Linked DNA regions of Homo sapiens: all the other regions are linked to region 1. The links come from fine-mapping of genetic effects on gene expression. A gene starts in region 1. Each other region holds a variant in brackets. All regions are shown on one strand. Distances are between the middles of the regions. Region 1 holds the start of DPP3-DT (DPP3 divergent transcript). Region 2 has its middle 7.8 kb from the start of MRPL11. Region 3 overlaps SLC29A2 (solute carrier family 29 member 2).

Region 1 (2,752 bases):
TCCTGAGAGCACTGGGGTCTTTTCCTTGCCTGAGCTGCCCCCTGCTGGCAGTGGGCAGCACTACCTCCCTTACCTGTGCACATTTCAACTTCACCTGTCAGCCAACTTTATACCCATTTTAAAGACAATGAAAACGGAGGCACAGGAAAGAAGAGGGGTGACTTTCCTAAGGACACCGACCAACTTGTTGAACTCCCCCATATAACAAGTAATCATCAAAGCTAACAGCTTGTAACACTGTTGTGTCAAGCAGGGCCTTGGGCACCTTTGTGGATGAGAAACTGGTGTCTATGGTAAGCAGAGGCTGTCTGGCCTAGACACGGGCGTAGCAAGGAGACCGTGCGGGATTTCAGTACCCAAACGCCCCTCACCCTGCGCAACTATAGGGAGCGGCACTGCAGTCAACACATCACAACTTACAATATCCCTTGGATTGGATTCAATTATTAGCCTGGTTTTCCGGTTCATAAAGCCAAGACTCCCAGACAACCTCACTCCACCCCCCAGTCTGACCCTGGGCCCTCACCACTACTCCCCATTTGGCCTAGGCCCTTCCGCATGCCCCACCCAGACCGTGGTCCCGTGAGTCCGTCCAGACCTGTAAAAGTGGACCGCGGGCCCGCCTCTGCTCTGGACTCCCTTTCGGGGCCGCAGGAGGCTTTCTCATCCATCAGGCATCTGGCAAGCACCAGGAAACTACCAGCCTGTTTGTGCTAAGGAAACTGAGGCTCGGGAATGTTTAGCGGCTCCTTCCAGGCCCGTGGCGGGTGGGTGGTGGTACAGTGAAGCAGTCGAGGCGTTTCTCCGCGCCCCTACACGGGTGGGACCACCTCAGCCCTGGCCCGATCCCACTCAACCGTAGCCCCGATTCCCGGCACCGAGAGCTTTGCAACTTCCAAGTCTCCACCCCCAGGTCCCGAGTCCCGAGAGGAAGGTGGAGCCACATTACTCCTATTGTGTAGGTTCCCACCTGCAAGAGTGCTGTCGGGTCCTCTGAGGTGAAACCCCAAAGGAAAGCGGGATCGGGACTGGGGGAGGGGGATTCCCAAGTCCCTGACACCCGCGCCGTCTCGGCCTGGGCTTGGTGACCTCGTCAGTCCCGTCTGCCGGGACTAGGCCGCGGCCAGGCCGGGCACAGCGGTACCCGGTCCGGCGCGTGTGCGGCCTGCTGACAAAAGGCCGAGCCCGCAGGGCCAATCCGCGCGCCACCCCGTAGCGCCTGGGGGCGGGAGCGGGCGAGCCGAGAAGCTCGTCTTGGCGCGTCTATTGGCTGGTACTGACGCCCATCCGGACCCCGAGGCCAGGCAGTTGGCCAAGGGGGGCGGGGTTCGCAGAGCCCCAATGAATGGGGGAGCCGGAAGCAGGAAGTGAGTTTGCGAACGGAGCAGCTGCTGCAGGTGAGGCGCGGCGCCTGGGCTTTTGGGGTCAAAGCGTGTCATCCCGGGGGACCAAGGCGAATCCATACTGAGCGCAAAATCGTTCCCTTTCTGCCCACTCTCCAGTACCCCCTCCAAATTCACCCCGCCCTCGAGGCCAAGGAGTGCTCCGGGGAGCAAAGAGTTAACAGCCCTTTCCGAACCTCGAGGCTGTGCTATTGGGGCGGGGCTTCTGGAGGCCGGGGCAGGGCGAGGAGGCTGGACACTCTGTCCCAGCCGGGACGGGGCGTGGCGGGGAGAATGCCCCGGGTTGGGGAATCCCCGGGTTCCAACGGGGCTGTCAGACCTTCAGTAAATTGTTGCCCTTTCCAAGCCTCAGTTTCCCTATCTGTAAAATGGGCTTTCTTCTGGTTGTGAACTTCTGTGGCTTCCCTGGTGGAGCACAGGGAGCGAGCAGGAGAATGGAGGGCCAAGGAAAAGGCATTTAGAGGGATGAGAATGGGACAGTTTCAAGCAAAATCATTTATTGCTGTGGATACTTTCCGTCCAGGGCGACTTCATCTGATTAGCGCACCCACCTGGTAATATTGGGGTTATTCTCTCTTTTATAGAGGAGGAAACGGAGGTACAGAAAAGTGAAGCAATGGACTTGACTTTTAGGAGTCTGGGGCCGAGTCCTGGCTAAAGGCTGAGCCTTCCAGCTGGCGGCCTGGCACTTTATCCTTGTGAGCACAGTGGAAAGTGTAAAGAATTCTGAACAAAGGCCAGGCGCGGTGGCTCACGCCTGTAATCCCAGCACTTTGGGAGGCCAAGGCAAGCAGATCGCTTGAGGCCAGGAGTTCGAGACCAGCCTGGACAAAATAGCGAGACCCCGTCTCTATCAAAAATACAAAAAATTAGCTGGGCATGGTGATGCACGCCTGTAGTCCCAACTACTTTGGAGGCTGAGGCAGGAGAATCGCTTGAACCCGGGAGGCGGAGGTTGCAGTGAGTCAAGATCATGCCACTGCACTCCAGCCTGGGCAACTAAGTGAGACTCCGTCTTAAAAAAATAATACTGAACAAGGAAGCAGGGAGGGGCCTGGGCTGGGAGCCTAGAGATGAGGATCTCTGCTGCTGATGTCTCCATTGTGGGATTAGGCAAGGCTCTTAGCCTCTCTGAACCTCAGTTTCCCCATCTGTAATACTAGGTAGTTAGAGTCAATCAATTTTTTTTTTTTTGAGGTGGAGTCTCACTCTGTTGCCCAGGCTGGAGTGCAATGGTGCGGTCTCAGCTCACTGCAGCCTCCACCTCCTGGGTTCAAGTGATTCTCCTGCCTCAGCCTTCCCAGTAGCTGAGATTACAGGTGCCTGGCACCAAGCCTGGCTAATTTTTG
Region 2 (2,752 bases), 49 kb before region 1:
GGTGACAGAGTGAGACTCTGTCTCAAAAAACAAAAAAAAAAACAAAACAAAAAAGCCCCATAACTTTTTTTATTTTTTATTTTTTGATATGGAGTCTTGCTCTGTTGCCCAGGCTGGAGTGCAGTGGCACGATCTCGGCTCACTACAGCCTCTGCCTCCCGGGTTCCAGCGATTCTCCTGCCTCAGCCTCCTGGGTAGCTGGGATTCCAGGCGCATGACACCACGCCTGGCTAATTTTTCTATTTTTAGTAGAGACGGGGTTTCACCATGTTGGCCAAGCTTCTCTCAATCTCTTGACCTCGTGATCTACCAGCTTCAGCCTCCTAAAGTGCTGGGATTACAGGCGTGAGCCACCATGCCCAGCCGCCCCACAACTTTAAAAGGTAAAAATTATGGAAGAAAAAAAGAAACCCCTCCCTGGTATTTGGTGGCAGTGACAGGAGATGGTAGAGTGTGTGTGGACAAGAAGGCACCCTGACACTCAGAACTGGAGAGCCAGGCCGTCGACCCATGCGGAGAAAGAAGTTGAGCGAGCCCATTGCGCCCCCTGCTGGACATAGAACCATCTGCTTCTGTTCCCTTCCCTGGCACGGTCCCTGTGGCTCAGAGCATCAACAATATTGCATCTTAGAATAGATGGGTAAACTGAGGCCCAGAGAGAAGAAAGGAATTGCCCAATGGCACTTCCAAAGTGGCTGCAGAAGCCAAATCTGACTCTCAAGCACCCTTGCCACCAACACCAGGTTGCTGCCCTGGGAGCAAAAAGGTATGAGAAAGGGCTGAAGTTTTGGAGTCACAAAGACTGAGGTCAAATATTGGCTCTGGCACTTCATTTTGCATGTGATAAACACTTATGACACCTACATGCGCCAAGGGCTTTGCTGGGTCCTGGGGAAAACTGAACAAGACAGACAAGGTCCCTGGACTCACAGACCTTACACTGAAGTTGTGGGGAGACGTAACAAAAAGTAAAATAACTCTTTAAAGGGAGCATGCAGTGCGTGCAGTGAAAGAAAGAACCTGTGTACTGTGGCCGAGCGGAACTGAGGAGGGGGTGCTAATTTAGAATGTGGCATCAGAAAGCTCTTCTAAGGTGACATTGAGCTAAGACCTAAAAGATAAGAAAGAAGAAGAGGCCGGGCACGGTGGCTTGTGCCTGTAATCCTAGCACTTTGGGAGACTGAAGCAGGTGGATAGCTTGAGTCCAGGAGTTTGAAACCAGCCTGGGCAACAAGGCAAAACCCCGTCTCTACAAAAAAAAAAAAAAAAAAAAAAAAAAAGCAAAAAGTTAGCCAGGTGTGGTG[G/C]TGTGCACCTGTAGTCCCAGCTACCCAAAAGGCTGAGGTGGGAAGATCACCTGAGCCCAGAAGGGCGAGGCTGCAGTGAGCCTTGATTGCACTTACACCACTGCACTCCAGCCTGGGTGACAAGAGTGAGACGTCGTCTCAAAAAAAAAAAAAAAAAAAAAAAAAAAAGTCCGGGCGCTGTGGCTCACCCCTGTAATCCCAGCACTTTGGACTTTGGGAGGCAGAAGCGGGCGGATCACGAGGTCAGGATATCAAGACCATCCTGGCTAACACGGTGAAACTCCGTCTCTACTAAAAATATAAAAAATTAGCCGGGCGTGGTGGCGGGCGCCTGTAGTCCCAGCTACTCGGGAGGCTGAGGCAGGAGAATCACTTGAACACAGGAGGCAGAGGTTGCAGTGAGCTGAGATTGTGCCACTGCACTCCAGCCTGGGTGACAGAATGAGAGAAAGAAAGAAAAGGAAAGAAGAAGGAAAGAAAGAAAAAGAAAGAAAGAAAAAAGAAAGAAAGAAAGAAAAGAGAGGAGAGAGAGAAAGAGAAAAGGAAGGAAGAAAGGAAGGAAGGAAGGAAAGAAGGAAAGAAGGAAGGAAAGAGGAAGAAGAGTGCTCCAGGTCAAAGAAAAGCAAAACTAAGGGTATCAAAATGGGAAAGGATTGACCTGTTTAAGGAATAGGAAAGAAGTCAGTGTGGCAAGGGGAAGAGTGGCTGGAGAGAAGGAAGATTACCCAGGGCCTTTGGACCAGGATAAGAAACTTAGATTTTATTTCATGTGCAATAGGAATCCTCTGGGGAAATTTAAGTGAGAGAACGACATATAATTCACATTTTTAAGCCATCCCACTGAAAGTTGTGTGGAGAATGGATTGAATGAGGTAGGAGGAGAAGCAGAGACCAGTTTAGGCTTCTGCAGTGATCCAGGCAAATAGGACGAGAACTCACACCCAAGTGCTTCCCTCAAGTCCAGGCGGAGGTGAGTGACTGGCTTTGGAATGCTTCAGAGGCAGAACTGACAGGATTTGCTAATGGATTTCAAATGGGGGTGAGGAAAAGAGAAGTCTCCTGTTTCTGACTTTAGTGAGTGAGTGAAGGGTTGTTGTTTACTTAGAAAAAACTGCCTGGTCACGGTGGCTCACGCCTGTAATCTCAGCACTTTGGGAGCCTGGGCGGATCACGAGGTCAGGAGTTCAAGACCAGCCTGGCCAATATGGTGAAACCCCATCTCTACTAAAATACAAAAATTAGCTAGGCGTGTTGGTGCGCACCTGTAGTCCCAGCTACTCTGGAGGCTGAGGCAGGAGAACTGCTTGAACCTGGGAGGTGGAGCTTGCAGTAAGCCGAGATTGTGCCATTGCACTCCAGCCTAGGTGACAGAGTGTCTCAAAAGAAAAAAAAATAGAGAAAAAGATGGAAAAATGGATAAGAAAGTTTTGTTTTTGTTTTCCTTTTTT
Region 3 (2,752 bases), 120 kb before region 1:
CTGGAATGGCTGCCCTGACTTCTCAGGTGGAATCAGTGGCTCCCTCGACATGCTTCTGCAGGGCCCTCACAAGACGTATCACAAGTTATATTTGGCTTCCTGTGGCCTTGGGAGCGGGGACTGTGTCTCCTTTGTTTCAAAGTCTCCAGACCAGGCAGGGCCTGGCTCGGGGCAGCTGTCTGTGAACAGTGCTCAAAGGAATGAATCCTTCCTTGGGGTCTGCCCTGTGGCTTATTTCAGCAACCAAGGTCATATCTTGCCTGTCTTCCTCCTTGATGCCAAAAAGCCCCTGGCTTCTGAGCAGGTACCCTGTGCTGGCTGAGCACCTAATATCTAATAGGTGCTCAGTGAATGTTCACAAAGGCAGGTGGGCAGAAAACCCTTGCTTTTCTCTGGGACGGGCAGGGTAGTATAGGTGTGTGGTGAAGCAGGCCTTTCCTCCATCCGTGTGTAGAATTGGTGGGGTCGCCAAAGCCCTGCCCACACTGACTGCCTCTCTAAGGCCAGATTTCCAAGGAGGAGCTATCCTGGGGAGGCAGAGGATGCTGGTGAGAGCCCAGGGGCTCATGGAGTGGGAGAGCAATAGTTGTCCATCCAACTAGGTGCTCTGCCCAGGAGCTCAGGATTCCTTGCAGGTCAGTACCCCCCAGCTATCATGTGGTCCAGAGGACCCAGCACAGAGATGCCCACCAATCCCTACCCCTCTCAGGGCCTCAGTCATCCCACCTGTCAAGGGGGTACAATCTTTCCGACCCCACCCAGTTCACTGAGGCCAATAGAGCCAACAGCACTTCGGAAATAAAGACTTGGTGAACGCATCATACAAATAAATGGGGTTATTAGACCCAAGAGCAGGGTCAGAAGGAGAAACAGCAAAAACGGGGAGTAAGTGCCCAGGCTCCTGCCCCAAACCCCTTGAGGAAAAGAGAAACAGGTGTTGGGCAGGAAGAACAGCACCAACAGGGAGGAGAGAGAGGGGATTGGGTCCCGGCTCTACCACGGACCAGTCACTTTCCCCAGGACTCAGTTTTGTCACCTGTATAATGGGGGAAGCACAATCCTTGCCTGACTCCTTCCAAGAGCCTCAATTAGGCTTCGGTGAGAGAGTGGGTATGGAAGAGCTTTGCAAACTGTAAAGTGCAGTACACACATGCAGGCTAGCTGTGGCCCTGGGGCCCAGGCCCAGCTGGGCTCTGCGGAGTGGGTACAGTAAGTGTTGGCAATGAAAACACTGCTTGAGGCTGAGCCTGGCCCTTTGAGCACCCTCAGGTCCTCCACATCTGTTCCTCCTCTCAGGTGCCCACAACTTCCCTGGCACCTTTTACCCTGGGTGGCTGAGGCCTGGGAAGATGAGGCGCTCCTGGCCTGGGCTGGCCCCGCCTCCCACTCTGAACCCTCTGGTCACCTCTGCTCCTGATGATGATGAACAAATGCAGACCTGGTGGTGGGGAGCAGCCGTGCCCTGCACCCTCTTTTCCCTAGTCATCACCCTTTCCATGAGGTCTTGTGCGAGTCACCCCCATTCCTGGGTGAGGGTTAGAATGACCGGTGGTGATTTCTTCCCC[A/G]CAGCACTCCAAGTGGATGAAGAGCAGCTCCTGCCCGCTGCTGGCAGCCTCAGGCCCAGGGGCCTCCACCCCGCAGAGGCCTGAGCCAAGCTCGCCATTCGCCCTGGGCTGGATCTCAGCTCCGGAAGGAGACGTCGAGAAGAGGCTGCCAAAGAGCCTGGAGGGGCCACTTCAGAGCAGCGCCTTGAAGAGGAAGGAGAGGGAGGCTCCACAGGAAAGTCCCAGGGCCAGGAAGAAGGTCATGAGGGCGCCGGCCACCTCCCTCTCGTGTGGCAGCACCTGCCTAGAACACCCGGGAACAGGAGCTCTTAGAAAATGCTGGGTCTAAATCTGGACCCAGCTCCACTGCCCTCTGCCCATCCAGTCTGGGCTCTGACCCAACCCCTCTGTCACCATAACTGGCCCCTTCTTTCCGGGCCTCAGTTTCCTGGTCTGTAAATGAGGCTGCTGGATAAGGATGTCTCTCAGGGCCTCTGAGTCTAACATGATGGGATTCCAGATTCCACAGCCTGCCCTTTCCACAGTGCTCTCAGCCTGTCTGCCCTGCCAGCTTCATTCTCTCTGGATTCTCCACTCCATTGCCCCTTGAGGAAATAGCCCATGACCTTGTTTTTGGTCAAAACCTTAGCTCTCCTTCAACTGAGAATTTTACAGTTAGATGGGCCCTGAGGGATGACAGTTCAACCCATTTTTTTTTACAGATGGGGAAACTGAGGCACATTGAGGCGGCCCCAGAACCAGTGCCTGGGCTACTTGGTTGGGCGGGTACCTCCCTAGCCCAGTTCTCTCCCCTGCAGTTAAGGCTTGGCCCAGTAGGGGGCGCCAGCAAGGCCTGCAGACAGCTAGGGTTGGGCTGGCCAGAAGCAGGATGGGCCGTCCCTCCATTGCAGGCGGTCCCTTCCCAAAGACTGAACCCACCTCCCTACTCCCAGCCCCCCACCCCACCCCATTGCCCCGGACCTGGGCGCCAGGCACATGGTGAGGGACACCAGGTAGCCATTAGAAACGGCAAAGAGCAGCATGAAGGTGATGAAGTAGGCATCCTGTGGGAAGAGGATGGGCAGCCGGGACCTCTGGGGCACGTGGCACAGCATGAAGAGGGGCACGAACAGGAACCGCAGGCAGACCAGCAGGGGCAGCAGCCGGCTGTCCTCGTCTGGCTGTGGTAGAAGCTGAAGTCAGCATGG

What was found. PIP is the estimated chance that this variant, and not a neighbour inherited with it, causes the effect. A credible set is the group of variants that fine-mapping cannot tell apart.
Region 2: its variant is the best candidate, but not a certain one, in a credible set for the expression of DPP3-DT in thyroid (GTEx, PIP 0.68).
Region 3: its variant is the best candidate, but not a certain one, in a credible set for the expression of DPP3-DT in skeletal muscle (GTEx, PIP 0.88).

What each region holds. Positions count from the first base shown.
Region 1 is chr11:66,479,069-66,481,820 of GRCh38, forward strand. It overlaps DPP3-DT (DPP3 divergent transcript), which reads right to left and starts at 1,181. Exons shown (of 4, transcript NR_120586.1): 1 at 971-1,181. It overlaps DPP3 (dipeptidyl peptidase 3), which reads left to right and starts at 1,366. Exons shown (of 18, transcript NM_130443.4): 1 at 1,366-1,397. RefSeq lists enhancers at 192-759, 1,336-1,505 and a silencer at 1,146-1,195.
Region 2 is chr11:66,429,633-66,432,384 of GRCh38, forward strand. No RefSeq gene overlaps it. Among named protein-coding and RNA genes, the nearest start is that of MRPL11, 7.8 kb to the right of the region's middle. The variant G/C (reference allele first, on the strand shown) is at 1,305.
Region 3 is chr11:66,361,700-66,364,451 of GRCh38, forward strand. SLC29A2 (solute carrier family 29 member 2) reads right to left here. Exons shown (of 12, transcript NM_001532.3): 11 at 2,526-2,725; 12 at 822-1,848. The coding sequence ends at 1,737. It overlaps B4GAT1-DT (B4GAT1 divergent transcript), which reads left to right. Exons shown (of 2, transcript NR_135761.1): 2 at 1,570-2,065. Among named protein-coding and RNA genes, the nearest start is that of SLC29A2, 8.7 kb to the right of the region's middle. The variant A/G (reference allele first, on the strand shown) is at 1,566.